Linked DNA regions of Homo sapiens. The protein of the gene in region 2 purifies or fractionates together with the protein of the main gene of each other region. This does not show direct contact. Each region holds a gene or a part of one and is shown on either strand. Other genes may lie near its edges.

Region 1 (3,816 bases), on a different chromosome or scaffold from region 2:
CTATTCCTTGCTACCAAACCTGCCCGGAGTGTGAAGAACTTGTGTGTTTTGTGAGACTGAGATGTAGGGTTTGTGTCAGGGGCAGGAAAGGGGTGGTGACAAGAAACAGGAGAGGCTGGAGTAAGCAGGATCTTACACCCTACATTCAGGAGGTAGGGTTTTGTCCTGATGATGAAGAGTCAGTAAAGGGATTTTAGGCAGGGAAGGGATACGTTTCAGAAAGACTGCGTGGCTGCTGGGAGATGGTACAGGGCAGAGGCAGAAGACTGGGAGGCTGGTGGGAGGACAACGTCCAAATGAAAAAATTATAGTGTCCTAAGCCAGAAGAGAGAAGGTAGAGACTGGCAGACTCTAGAATCCTTTTAAGAGCTGGGAAAGACCAGACTTAGAAGCTGGGGAAAGAGATAAGGTCTTGACCTACTATGGGGTAAACCAAGTGGGTCACAACTGCTTGACACTTCAGCCAGCAAGATGCTCATGGGCCAGCATATCCAACCCTCCCCAGTGGCCCCACTGGCCATTTTAATCACCACTGAGGACACTAAGGTCCAGATGGATCAGTATTAGGCACCCTAGACCAGCTTTTTGGTTGGCAGAGGGGCCGGGATATCTTCATGAGAAAACACAAACCATCCCATCTCAGAACAGGTTGGGATCCAATCTCTTTATTGTCAGGGTCCCCTCCCTGTGGCCCCCCGCCAAACCTATAGAAAAAACCCAAGCCTGGGAGTGTCCTGGGGAGGGGAGGTAGTATGGGGAAACCCCTGTGCTCTACCCTCTGGCCTGGGCAGTGCAGACAGGGAGGGCTCATGGGGAAGGAGTAGGCCAGTAACTCCACCTGCAGAGGACATGGCACTGGCTGGGATGCGTTGGGGGAGGAGGCGCCTGCTGCCAGCTTTCCTCTGGTACCCGCTGGGGGGTGGCATCCAGGGTTGGGTGCCCGGCTTGAGGCCTGGGGCAGCGATGCCCTTCACCTGCTGGTGGCCATTGCTCCTGTCAGGCTGAGAAAGAGAGAGAGAGAAAGAAGAGACTAAGGCTGAGAGGAAGAGACCCTGTTGCTGATAAAAGGGGTAGGGAAGAAAGGGTGGAATGATGTCTGGAGACAGAGAGATTCTTGCACTCTGGCTGTGGCCTCATAATTTCCTGGCCATGTAACCTTGGGCAAGTCTCACCCGCTCTCTGAACCTCCATTTCCTCACCTGAGCCCATATAACTCACCTGTGAACTATTTTAACAAGCTTTGGAAAGCACCAGGCACAAAGGGGTGTAGCAGGATGGCTGGATATGGAGGTTTGTTTGCATCCCAGGCAAAACAAACCAAGAAGTTCCAAAAGAAGACTGCATATGTACAATTTTCTAAAGCTCTTCTGGAAGCCTTTGCTGGTGGGATATCTTACTACAGCATAAATGTGTCATCTATCCAGACACCTCCCTGGAAACACTAGTGTTTGAGACCTTCCTCCACCCAAGCCACCCCAAGGGAATGGGTCAGAGAGTAGTAGGCACAGCCAGGTGTGGCCTGGCTTTCCTTTAAGGTAGGGCAGAGTAGATGGTAAACAGTGGCCAGAGAGTGGGCTTTGAAGCCACACACCACTGGGCTGAAATCCAGGCTCCACCAACTACTACCTTATCTCCCTGCACCCTTTAGTGTCTGTTTCCACATCTATTATATTGGTACAATCATCAGCTTGTGGGATTGAAGATGAACTCAGAGAAAGCAGGTGCAGCTCCTGTCACACAGGGCATTTCCTCCCCATGAAAGAATCAAATCCCAGCCCCTAAGCCTGACACATACGGCCCTTCACAATCATCACCCTCTGACAATAAGCAGAGTCCTCTACCAACTAGGGGGGCACTGCAGCCACAGGAGGCTCTTGGCCTCACCACATACCAAGGACTGTCACAGCTCTGTATGGCTAAGGCCATTCCCCTGGTGTGGAACATTGCTCCCTCAATCACTAGCAGGCTCAGCTACACATCATCTCTTCCATGACCTGGCCTCGCTCTATTGTTATCCTGCTCACACTAGGTGGTAATGGCTTATGTCTTCCTCTACCAGACTAGGAGCTCCTCAAGGGCAGAGACAGGCAACATGGCTGAGTGTGCTGAGGGAAGGAACCCTTGCTAGGTGGGCCCGCCTGGCCCATCTACGGCACCTGCTTCCTCAGCATGGCAAGCCCCAAGCATGAAGGGGTGTGACGGGATGGCTAGATATGGAGGGGACTTCATTCTTGGGTATAGTCAGTGCTACTTGGCCAGGTATGCTTCGTGACACTTCCTGCCCAATCCAGGGAAAAGGCACAACCTCCACTTCACTGATTCCCCACCCTCTGCCCATCAGGACAGGACCCCTGTACCTGCTTACTGCAAGGCCCCATCATCCGCGTCTGTGTCCTGGCTGTGTTCCTGATAGGGAGGAGGTAAGAGAGACCACACATCACTCATTGCCAGCTCTGAGTCCTGCCCTGAGCCATTTGTCCAGAAAAACTTCATGGTCCAGAGGGCATCTAGAGGACACAGTCAGAAGACGCAGGAACAGCCAAGGGGAATGACTATGGGACCAGCCAACAAAGCTGGCTTGGGAACTTGGAAGGGTGGTCTGAGGACCCCACACAGGCCAGTGAAGGGTGTTCTGGGAGTGGCAGGAGCCCCATTTCTGTGCAGAGAGCCTGCACTGGAGAAGGCTGAAAGCCTTATAGACTGGTGAGCTCCCCATCTCTGGGGGCATCCAAGTCTTTGTTAGGGCCTTTATGGACACTGCTATGCCTGAGAAAATAAGATGAAGGATCAGGCTACGCTCAAAGGAGAGATGAGCTAGCATAAGGCAGACCTCCTAACCGTCATGGCCATGAGCCCATCTGTTCTCACGATAGAACCCAGCAGTGCTGAAAAGGAGAAAGCTGCAGATCCAGCAAGTCAGTCTGGACTCCAACCCTGGCTCAGTCCCTACGAGCTGATGCCCTGAGCATGCCACTCAGCCTTTCTGAGCCTCGATTTCCTCACAGGGTAAAATGTGGGAACAGAATACTCTGCATAGTACAGGGCTCTTGTTAAGGTTATGTGAAGTTAGAGAGTATGATCTGGGTCTTGGTGCTCAATGAGCGCTCATTAAGTAAATGAGCAGCAAGTGTACAACCCATATCCCACAGACTCAGAGTTTGGTCCACCCTCCCACTCAACATAAGCTCCTTGTCAAATGGCCTGCCGGCCTCAGCCTGAATAGTTCTAGTAACAGGCGGGGAGCTCACCCCCTTATGAGACAGCTTTTGCTTCATGCTTAAGCAGCAATGGCTTTTAGAAAAACCCACCTCCTGGCTGTGGCCTCCACAAGCCACCCCAGCCCTGCTCTGAAGCTCTGCAGGCCGTGTGTGCTCCCTTATGTCCGAATCTCCCATTCTCCAACTCATGTGGAAACCGGAGGCCAGAATGTGCCCGCATTTGGGGGAGGTCTGCCCTAGGCCTCAGTGGGACTTCTGATGGTGTCTGAGATAGGCAAGTGCCCCCTGCTCATTCTTCCCTCTTTCCCCCAGGACCAGAACCCCTGGGAAGGAGAGAACAGGAAGTTCACAGTGGGGGCAACCAGCTCAGGCTGCCCATTCCCCTGTTGGCCTCCTGAGAGTAGGAGCACAGTCGAGTCCCAGTCGTGCCCCTGGCCAGGCCCTCACCAGCTCTTCCTCGCTGTGTGTCAGGAGCCCTTCCTCATCGCCGTCGTCTCGGGTCCGTGCTTCCCCCTGGGGCAGGCCTGCCTCAGAAGTTGTGTTCTCTTGGGGGGCTGGTGGCCGGCTGCTGCCACCGCCACCGCCACCACCACTGCCA
Region 2 (3,816 bases):
GACCAATTAAGATATTTACCTTCCTACAACACAAAAATAATTAAAACTAGTGAAAGATATCTTACTTCAGTATATGCACATGAATAATGAGGCCAAGCCCATCTGTGTAAGCTAATCTAAAATCTGGTTTTTACAAAATAATATATTTGATGACAAATATGGCTCTACTATTGCTCAAAAAGAAGCTACCAATAATTTCATTTCAGCCGGGCACGGTGGCTCACGCTTGTAACCCCAGCACTCTGTGAGGCCGAGGCAGGTGGATCCACGAGATCAGGAGATAGAGACCATCCTGGCTAACACAGTGAAGCCCCGTCTCTACTAAAAATACAAAAAATTAGCCAGGCGTGGTGGTGGGCGCCTGTAGTCCCTGCTAATCGGGAGGCTGAAGCAGGAGAATGGCGTGAACCCAGGAAGCGGAGCTTGCAGTGAGCCGAGATCACGCCACTGCACTCCAGCCTGGGCAACAGAGCGAGACTCCGTCTCAAAAACTAACTAACTAAATAAATAATTTCATTTCAACAAAAATGTACTTAGATTTTAAACTATCAAAATAATGCTACTTAAGGCAACATTTCAAAAAGACATGGGTAACAAATAGTAAAGGCCGTAAGAAGTAGTCTTACACCGGGTGAGTGCACCCCTGGTTGTTCAGAAACTACACATCAAGTAACTGAAAGGTCCTTCTTCCTCTATCATTTCTTGTTGCATACATCTTGGTTGGCACCCCTGATAATTAGCCCCTCTATTAAATCACAGACAAATCCAAGAGTAGAGTTTTCCAACACAAATATGCTAATTTAGTTAACTTCCTAGCAACTAGGACCAAAAATCATTAGGAAGGAAATTGAAGTTCTTGGACTAAATTAATTTGGGAAATTAACTAAGAGTTTTTATTTATACATGATATTCCTGCCTAACATAATGACAAGCCATTGAAATCTGATTATCCATGAAATAAATAATAGCTATATAACCAGACTATTGCTAACATTCTCCTTTTATGTTGCTGTTTGTCATTATTTGCTCAGAATTCAAAGAATGCACATATTTTGTGAATCAGAAATATCATTAAAGAATGAATTAATTTACATTTTCAATATGTCCTATTTTTATGGAATCCAAAGCAGAGTTAATAGATAGTAGCTTAAACTAAAAAATAACAGAGGGTTTTCTGAACCCCCTGATCCAGGTTAAAACAATTCTTAAGAACTAAGAATTACCTTCCAGTATCAGCGTCCCACACTACAACGGTATGATCAAAAGACCCCGTGATGATTCTGTCTCCTGAGGTGTTAAATGACAAGGAGATGATTTCGGCAGAATGTCCCTAGAAAAAGAGCAGATACTGTCAAGTATACCTGCAGATAAAACAATTTCTGCAAGCGTACAATATCATAGTCTAAAAGGAAATGCTGGAGAAGGCCGAGCTCTAGGAACGGAGGTCAGCGGTTGGCTGGGGTGAGGATGGGGAGTGTCTGCACGTGGGCACAGGGTTCTTTTTGGGGTGATGGAAAGGTTTGAAAACTAGGTTTTGGTAATGGCTGCACAATACTGTGAGTTTACTAAAAATTAGTGACTTACACACAGCTAGTTCATTTAACTTAATAATATTGATTAAAAACAAAAGAAAGAGGTTGTATTTGGGGAAACTAGAGGACGTCCTTTACACTGCCTTGGAAACACTACAGAGCAGGGGATGCCATGGGCTAATAACACATGGTATGCAAAAGTAAACAGTGTATGAAATAAAACTAATTACTTTTAAAAAGGAAATTATTAAGATAACTTGACATGAAATCGATTGATAAATTCCTGCCTTTGGCCTGACTTTCAGCTGGTTACTGTCTAGTGTTAGTGAATCAAACTGTAAGATAATGGGAAGAAACCACTCTCCACAGCAGATTCTGGAACTCTGATAAGGGGATCCTGGTTGGAGTACATATATCCCTTGATTCCTTCATTATTTTAGTAAATTAACATAAGTATACTTTTAAATAATACAAAGAATTAGAAAAGTTGAATTATAACTTGATTTTTCTGATTGATTTCAAAGGACAAAATGAAATGTAGTTGAATATTCGAATTCTAAGTACGCAAAACAAATTCACTCTCTGGCGCAGACAGGTGTGCCAAGCAGGACCCCTCCCATTGAGTGCTCTTAGGCACGTCTGTAAAAGGAGTCATTTTAGTTGAAAGTGTGGCATTAATGGGGACCTTTCCCTGCACATTTGCCTGAAGGAAGAGATAGTAATGATTTAAAAAAAAAACGAAAAAAGAACTGAGAACAGAAAGAGTATACTTACACTAATAATGCTAGATACTCAGATTTAAGAAAGAAAAGCCATTACTGTTATTTTAAAATGGTGATTTTTTTTCTTTTGCAGTCCATGTTTTAACTTGCTTAGAAAAAGCTTTCTGAGGAAACAAATCATGTTTTTAAAAATGTACTTATAATTTTGAAAGGACAAGGAAACTGAATTTCCCATCTGGCTGTTCCTGCTGATTACAACATAGGGTCACTCTAGTTTTGTTGCAGTGACTTGGGCTGGGGTGGGAGGAAGGGGAGGGTGGGAGGAAGGGGAGGGTGGGAGGAAGGGGAGGGTGGGAGGAAGGGGAGAGTGACAGATGGCGGGGAGGTGCTGGGCACATGGTGGTGACACACAAGAGCATGCCCCACAGCACTCACTCTGTGGGCAGAGCCCTTTGGCCTTTTCCCCTCTGGTCACTTGCCCCTCTGTCATTTCAGACTTTTGTGATACAGGATGGCTGAAAGACCAGCGGGCAGAGGAGAGTGTGCTCACAGTCATTGCTCTAAGGATTCTCTTGTCATGGTTCTCCAGTTCTGCCTCTTCCAAAAGTGCCAGCCTCCACCTGCTTTCCTTTTAGCCAGAGAGATGGTGATGGGTTCTAAGATATAGTTTATGTGTTTTGCAGACTAAAGTTAGTCAAAATAAAAAGCTCCTTGGACTTCCCCAGCACCTCCACCCAAGTCTTTTGGAATAGCCAGGAAACCAGTAGGGACACTCTTTCACCACTAAAATTTGAAAACCAGCAACTCAACAACCTCCAACTTAGAGCTCATTTTGTAACAAAAACACAAATAAGAATGAACACAAATAACAGGCTTATTAACATTATTGACATACTCTTAAGGTGTAAACTTCCTCGCCATTCTGAATGTCCCACAATTTGGCTGTTGTGTCCATACTTCCAGTCGCCACCAATGTGCTTTGAGGGTTAAATGATAAACACACCTAAATTACATAAAATGGGAGAAATTTTAGGAAGACAGAGTTTCAAAGTGTTAATTATACACAGAAAATCTTCCAGATGCAATTACCTTACCAGATTCCATCTAATTCTTTGTACAAAACCCCACGTATGTGTGACCTGCTACCCCCAGGTTGAGTCCTTCAGAGTCCTCCTCTTGAAAAGAGGCTGCTTGTTCTCCCACAGCACCCAGCTAAGGCTTGGAGGGGCACTAGCTCCCTTTGCCACTTCCAGACCACAGAAGAACAAGAACAAAAGTGAAGCCCACCTCCTTTAAGATCCGTGCTATATGGCTCTCCTTCTCCTTGCTGCTGTCACCACAGTCCTTCCAATCACAGCCCCTCACTCATCAAGAGACTACTGGCTTGTAGTCTCAATGCCAAGTCTTAGGTGGCCTTCACGTGGGCAATCCATCCAGTTCCCCCAGACCCATGCCCCGGACAACTGTTCAGTAGTCTCTCCCATGGCCACACCATGGACCTTAGTATTATCTTCTCTAGAAGATTCACCACCAATTCACCAATCCAGGGTCAAAATTTCCCT

Evidence for each region.
Region 1: the proteins of DAW1 (region 2) and RALY purify together in Homo sapiens (affinity purification with mass spectrometry, with the first as the bait; one large-scale study listed by BioGRID). This does not show direct contact.

What each region holds. Positions count from the first base shown.
Region 1 is NC_000020.11:34,077,095-34,080,910, reverse strand, and holds part of RALY (RNA-binding protein Raly), read right to left. Parts: coding exon 3,666-3,816; intron 2,407-3,665; coding exon 2,362-2,406; 3' UTR 2,358-2,361; intron 1,002-2,357; 3' UTR 1-1,001. UniProt on the Homo sapiens protein: RNA-binding protein that acts as a transcriptional cofactor for cholesterol biosynthetic genes in the liver. Binds the lipid-responsive non-coding RNA LeXis and is required for LeXis-mediated effect on cholesterogenesis.
Region 2 is NC_000002.12:227,902,443-227,906,258, reverse strand, and holds part of DAW1 (dynein assembly factor with WD repeat domains 1), read right to left. Parts: intron 3,258-3,816; coding exon 3,150-3,257; intron 1,331-3,149; coding exon 1,224-1,330; intron 24-1,223; coding exon 1-23. UniProt on the Homo sapiens protein: Required for axonemal dynein assembly and ciliary motility in ciliated organs, including Kupffer's vesicle, during embryogenesis. Facilitates the onset of robust cilia motility during development.